2 linked regions of the Homo sapiens genome follow. The protein of the gene in region 2 interacts with the protein of the main gene of each other region in a pairwise test. Each region holds a gene or a part of one and is shown on either strand. Other genes may lie near its edges.

Region 1 (3,500 bases), on a different chromosome or scaffold from region 2:
GGGGGCTATAGCGGCCTACGCCTGGAGACTGGCAGCCAGGGGTCTTGAGGACCCTGGACAGGTGATCGTCCAGTATCGTCTGCGGGTCTTCCTCGTAGCTGCCGGAGGGCAGTAGGGAGAGGGGGTGCTGCGTGGGCGCCCCCTCCCGCGAATTGAGTGTGAGCTCGGAGCCCTCTCTCTCTTCATCCTGAAAGGGAAGACGTCAGAAGGAGAAGTGACCCAGGAAGCAGAAGGGCCAGAGGCCCTGGGGTTGCAACATTCGGCTCCCTACGCAGGAGCACGCACACCCGTGTGCACGCCCACAGCCACGCCCATGCGCACACGCACAGGCCCGCCTACACAAGCACATATCCACACGCATATGCACACCCACACGCAACCCATGCACATGCGCACACAGCCCACGCCCAGGCACACACCCACACGCAGCCCACGCGCATGCGCATGCAACCCACGCACATGCGCACACCCTAACGCACCCCATGCACATGCGCATACACATACGAGCGCTCACGCCGTGGACGGAAGCAGGAAGAAGGCCTAGGCCGCATTACCTCTCGGATCTGCTGCAGGCGCTCCTCCAGGCTGTGGCGGCTCTCCAACTCCAGCTTCAGCTTTTCCAGCCTCGAGATCAGCTCAGCTGCAAAGGTGGCGGGTTCCACGGGGGTCATCTCCTTGGGCAGGCGGTGGGTTCTCTACAGGACGTGGAAAGGAAAGGGAGGAGGCACGTTCAGCAGGCTAGGTGGGCGGTGGCTTGGCCGGAGCTTCCCGCACCAGGCGCTGTGCACCGCAAACCCATGTTCGGGTGTAGAGTGGATGGCAAGGCGGCCTGGGCTGCTCGGGACTTTTATGCGCTAGCGCCATGGCCTCATGGAGAGCCATGGTCCCCACCAGCGTTTGCCTTGGGCAGGAGCAGTTGGTCGCACTCCGAGAGGCCCTGCTTGTTCTTTCTGTAGTACAACCAGCCCATCAGTAGTTACTTTGAAGTAGAAAATCTTCAAAGACTGTTGTCAACCATCAAAAAAAAAAAAAAAAAAAAAAAAAAAAAAAAAAAAAAGGCAGCCCTCTGAGGTGGGGAGGGGAGAGACCAACTCAAGGAATAGAAAGTAGAATCTAAACAGAAAGAGAGTTGAAAATTTAAAAAAATAAGATTGGAAAGGAGGTGGGAGGAAAGAAAGTGGGGGAAAAGGGAGTCAAACGGCCTGGATCAGAGAAGAAGTGGTAATTTATTTCCTGGCCGCACACTGCGCACCTTTGAGGTGGTGGTGTCTCAACACTGTCCTCGATCTCCCTCGTTTTTCTCCTTCCCTCCTCCCTCTCTCTTTGTACAGAAAATGAAGAAAGCTGCTGCAGGCTAGTAGCAGAACACTGCTGAGCTTGGCTGCCTGAAGCTGATCTATCAAGGGAAAAGGGAACATCTCCAAATCAAGTGCAGAATATAAAAAGGCACCGAGTACGCCTGCCAAAAGCAGCAAACAGAGAGAACCCCTGCTGCCCAGCTTTCTGTCCTTTTCCTGTCATCTCGCTCCCCCCACCCAACCCCCCACCTCTCCAGTTGTTCTACCTCCTTCTTCCTAATCTCCCTCTTGCTTAGCTCCTTTCTTTGGGCTGGGGTGGGGGTAGCAGAAAGCTAACTTGCAAAGGCTAGCATCTCCCCCAGCTGAAAAGATGGGCCTTGCCACGGCAACCACTTAGCTGCAGAAACTGGGGAAGAAGAGAAAGGCTCCTGTGTAGGTGGCCATTCTCACACAGGCTGGCTCCTTGCAGCCCCTGATCAAAGCGCTGCCTGATGGAGAAAGTCGATTTGCACACCCCAGGACAAAATCATCTAATTTACAAGCTTGGGCGATAGAACTTTTCTTTGTTAACTCACATATCCCCCAGTCAAAAAAACAATGATAGTATGTCATCAATACTTGTTATCTGTAGAGGGAGGGGATGCTAGAGGTCCTCAGAAAAGCAATTTTAATATGCTAATTTTAAAACAAGGTAAGTCTGCCCTTGTCTGTGTGAGGAGCTTTCAGAGAAGAGCTATAGTTTGTGCACTAATGCAACATGGGTTTAGCAATTCAATGTGTTAATTTTTTAAACACAACATAACCAGACCAATTAGATTCTCTGAAGCTGGCAGGAAGGATTCATAAACACCTGCTGTGAGCTGGGTGCTTTCTTCCCCTCCCCTCCTTGCAACCTGGATCTGAGGCTGTTGTAAACAGCACAGCCCTAAAATGGGAATGTAGATGGGGAAGTTCTCTTGAGTACAGCCATGTGCTGGCTGCTTTAGCAAGCATGGAAATAAAAGCAGAGGTCCCAGAAGAGCCCTTCATCCACCATCTCAGTCACAGGAAGAAGCTGCTCAGGAGATCCTCACTTCTAAACACTTCGTTCATTCCGCATTTGATAGGCACAGACTCACCAGCAGGTACCAAGCCAAGTTCTGGAGTTGGAAAGGAACAGCTACCCTCCAGGGCTTCAGGAGCCAGGAGGAGAAATGGTCAATGAATACATAAATAAATGACTAAAATCACTGACTAAAATGACTTGGAGTCCTGTGGTTGACACAAGAAGTAGAATGTCCCAGTGAAGAGAGCAGGAGGATGTCCCAAGGGGGGGCAGAGGTTCCTTATTCATTCACTCAAATGTTTATTGAGCACCTATTATGTGTCAGGTACTGTTCTAGTCTCTGTGCATACAGAGGTTAACAGAATAGATAAAACTCCCTCCCATCAGAGGGCTTCCATTCTAGTGGAAATACAGTGAGCTCACCAAGCTGTAGAGAAGCATGGATCATCTAGCATTTCTTAGTTTCTGGGAAATAAGTGCTTCAGTTTCTTTCTGATAGGGAATTTTTTTTTTGAATTCAGAAAATGCAAAGGTTCAAAAATAGGTCATCAAACCTCTCACATAGTTGGGATGCTTGTCCCCTCCAAATCTCATGTTGAAATATGATCCCCAATGGTGGAAGTGCACCTAGTGGGAGGTGTTTCGTGCCCTCCCTGCAGTAATGAGCAAGTTTTCCCTGTAGTTCATATGAGATCTGGTTGTTTGAAAGAACATGGCATTGCCCACCACCCCCCCAACCTCAGCTTGCTGTTTCTCCCGCTATGTTACAAACTGGCTCTCCTTCCCCTTGCGCATCATGATTGAAAGCTCCCTGAGACCTTCACCAGAAGCAGATGTTGGCGCCATGGTTCTTGAATAGCCTGCAGATCCATGAACCAAATAAACCTCTTTTCTTTGTTTTTTCTTTTGAGAAGGAGTCTCGCTCTGTCGCCCAGGCTGGAGTGCACTGGCGTTAGCTCACTACAACCTCCACCTCCCAGGTTCAAGTGATTCCCCTGCCTCAGGCTCCCAAGTAGCTGGGACTACAGGCGCACGTCACCACGCTAGGCTAATTTTTGTATTTTTAGTAGTGGTGGGGCTTCACCATGTTGGCCAGGCTGGGTCTCGAACTCCTGACCTCAGGTGATCTGCCCACCTCCGACTCCCAAAGTGCTGAG
Region 2 (3,196 bases):
GTGGCAGAGGACAGCAGCTGATTGGCAGCCCAGCAGGGAGGATGTGGTAGACAGGCACTGAGCATCTCTTCTACCCTCCTTCTAGAGGGCTATCCTGTACTGTTGAGGCTAAAAGACTGAAAACCACATTTCCCAGCCTCTCTTGCAGCTACCAATCTGGATGAGAGTTAGATTCTACACATTAGATGCACTTTAGCAAGATTTTCAAAAGCAGATTGGAGAAGGAGCCCATGCTTCTGCTGGTTTTTTTTGCTGGCAAGTGAGGGGTTCTGTTTTTCCTGGAGTGACTTTATCATGGTGGCATCTGAAAAAGGCTATTTCTTGATCAGAGAGACAGCAACCCTCTCAGTGACCTAGTTCTGTGGGTGTGTCTCTCCTGAGAGTTAATCCCAGAGCTCAAACTAGAGCTCAACCCTAGAGTCTCTTCAGGCTTCCCAGGGGTGGGGGTGCATTTAACAGTCCAAGTTAAAGAGAAAATAAAGGCCATTAAAGACCAAACATTGAGCACTGAGTGAAAAAGTTTTATTGCCAAACAGGAAACCTGATTCAGGCCAGGGTCTTGGAAGGTTGTTCAGGATGAGATGGGGGAGGTGAAATGGGGTAGGTCTTTGAAAACCAACAGATTGCAAATTCTCTGTCCCATAGCAGGAAACCACAGTCTCTGATGTCAGCTGGCTGCCAACACGTCAGTTGTATCAGCATTAGCTGGCTGGAGGTGGCCTGCTGTGTGCAGATGGTACCTGGTGCAGGATTGTGGTGTCCAGGTGTCTCTCCTTAGCACATAAGACCCTGTCCGAGGACTGTGGCATGACGTGCTGGAGTCACGATTCTGTCACCCAGTCAGGTCATCAGTGTCAGAGAGCTAGGTGGCCAGGTTGGAGTTGATTGCCAATGATAGGTCTTTTTCTGCTTAAATCAGCTGGACTGGATTCTATTGCATTAACTTGACCCTGACTCATGCCGCCAGGCCTAATTTATAAACCAAGACAAGAAAGGGCTACTCCACCCCCTCCAATTTGTGTAAGGCCAGGGGACTTCCCCCCCACTCCCCAACCTGAGGCATGCACCCTCCCTTAGATCAATGGCTGTTTCTCTGAGAATGCGGAACCGTGATTAATCCAGCCTTGATGGGGAGGCAGCAGGAACTGTAGGCATTCTCACTTCACACCCATCCCAATCCCCTCCCCCTTGCTGTCCTCTTGTACAGAGGACTGAAAGCACAACACTCTCTCCCTCCCTCCCTTATAGGTGGTGACGATCATGTGACTCTCTTCTGGTCAATGAGATGCAGCAGAAAGTCCTAGGGAGGTCTAGGAAAAGTCCTGTTGGGAGAGAGCATTTTTTACCTTCTCCCTGCTACTTCTTGCTACTAGTAACATGGATGTGAGCCTTGGAGGGGTAGCTACCATCTGGCACCTGGGGTGGCAAGCCAACATGGAAAGGATGGCAGAGCGGGAAGGAGGAGCCAGCCTTACCGATGGCATCACTGTCACTGCGCTAGCCCCAGACCACCTGCTCCAGAGTTCTGGTTATGGTAATGAAATAAACCTTGATTTTTATTCCTTAAAACTACCCTTCAATGGGTTTTCTGTTCATTACAGTTGAATGCTTTCATAACTGATACAGGAGGGACCCTGTGATTGGCAGTTCCACTAGACTGCATGGAGATGGGTGGAGTTATCTAAAAGAACAGAGATAGTGTCCCTAGAAGAAGGGGACAGGAAAGCATCCTGGGTACACAAAAGTCAAGGCTCCAGGATCTGCCCTGGGGGCTATCTCAACACCCCTACACTCTCACCGCACGTATTTGGTCAGCTATGAATATGACCAACTCTCGTCGTTTATCTCTATTCAGTGGAACACAGCAGCACTGTGACCTGCCCACGAGAAGAAGGATTTTTAGAACTTATCTTAGGGCAATTTTAGGTAGAGGAGCAGACAAGATGGTGTACAGGAGAAACAGGTCTATTAACCCTGGTATTAATATTAACTGGCTGCCCAGAATAAATGAAGAATAGCTTATTCTTTGCCAGGTTGAAGATAGAAAAGGAATGAAGGGCCGGAGAAGTACAGCTGGGTGAAGCACAGAGCAGCCTAGTGCTTGGCATGGGACTCAGATCTGAAGCAGCCTCTCCGGGACTTCTCTGAGCCTGCCCCTGGTGGTATGACTGTGATATCCCTGCTTCTATAGTTGGCAACCAACATGTCCTAGCTCCTAGACCATAGAGGGCCAGATTCATGTCTCATTGACTGTGTAATCTCTGTGTGGCCCAGTACAGAGCATGCACACCGTAGGTTCTCACATATGTTTGTTGAGTGAATGAATACAATACCAAACGAATGGACAGGACAGAGCTGTGGGCTAGCAGGAAGGATATCTGGCTTTTGCTTGAATTAGCTAGTGAATTGCTGTGTGGCCTCCTTACTGAGCCTCATTTCCCTCTGTCTGCAGAGTCAAGCAAATCTTCCATTTTTTGTTCCCCTGCTGCCAGAGCATGGCAGAGTAAATGTGTGAGTTGAAGGGAGCAACCTCATGAGGTTTTGCTTTGTGTCTTAATTACAGCCATTTGTGGAATTAGGCTTTTAATATAAATATTTGTGTGCCTGCGCCTGCATATATGTATTTGGACCAATGCTCTCATGTGTGCAAATACATGTATTCTAAAGAAATCTGTCCAGAACCCCAGCATCTGTGGTGTCTGTGGTGGGAGGGGCTTCCATATTACAGAGAGATGCCCACAGTGCATGACGTTACCCGCACAGGTGTGACATCACAGGGTAACCAAATGCTTTTGCCCTGGGGGTGGGAGAGGGATGGGTGCACGGTGAACAGCAGGTGGGGGTCTTTCCATAGGGGATGAGGAAGACAAGGCCACTTGGAGGCAGAGGAGACCACAGTGGGGCATGATGGTTGGGGAAGGCCTTTTACTTCTGCCCCTTAAGGATGCCCTGGAATTCAGGCTTTCGGATCCCAGAGCTCTCATTAGAGCAGCCCTGCGTTGTAGACTTTTCTGCAGTGACAGAAATGTTCTATATCTGTGCTATCCAATATGGTAGCCACAAGTTACATGTGGCTATTGAACACTTGAAATGGGGTTAGTGCAATTGACGAGCTGAAAATGTAGTTTAAATTCACTTACATTTAAATAGCTGTGTGTGGCTTGTGGCTGCCTATTGGACTGTGCAGTTCTGGAGA

The links.
Region 1: the proteins of KCNK12 (region 2) and AXIN2 interact in a two-hybrid assay, tested with the Homo sapiens proteins (one large-scale study listed by BioGRID and IntAct).

Annotation. Positions count from the first base shown.
Region 1 is NC_000017.11:65,537,649-65,541,148, forward strand, and holds part of AXIN2 (axin-2), read right to left. Parts: intron 696-3,500; coding exon 555-695; intron 188-554; coding exon 1-187. UniProt on the Homo sapiens protein: Inhibitor of the Wnt signaling pathway. Down-regulates beta-catenin. Probably facilitate the phosphorylation of beta-catenin and APC by GSK3B.
Region 2 is NC_000002.12:47,508,790-47,511,985, forward strand, and holds the end of KCNK12 (potassium channel subfamily K member 12), read right to left. Parts: 3' UTR 501-3,196; downstream 1-500. UniProt on the Homo sapiens protein: K(+) channel subunit that may homo- and heterodimerize to form functional channels with distinct regulatory and gating properties. Can heterodimerize with KCNK13 subunit to conduct K(+) outward rectifying currents at the plasma membrane.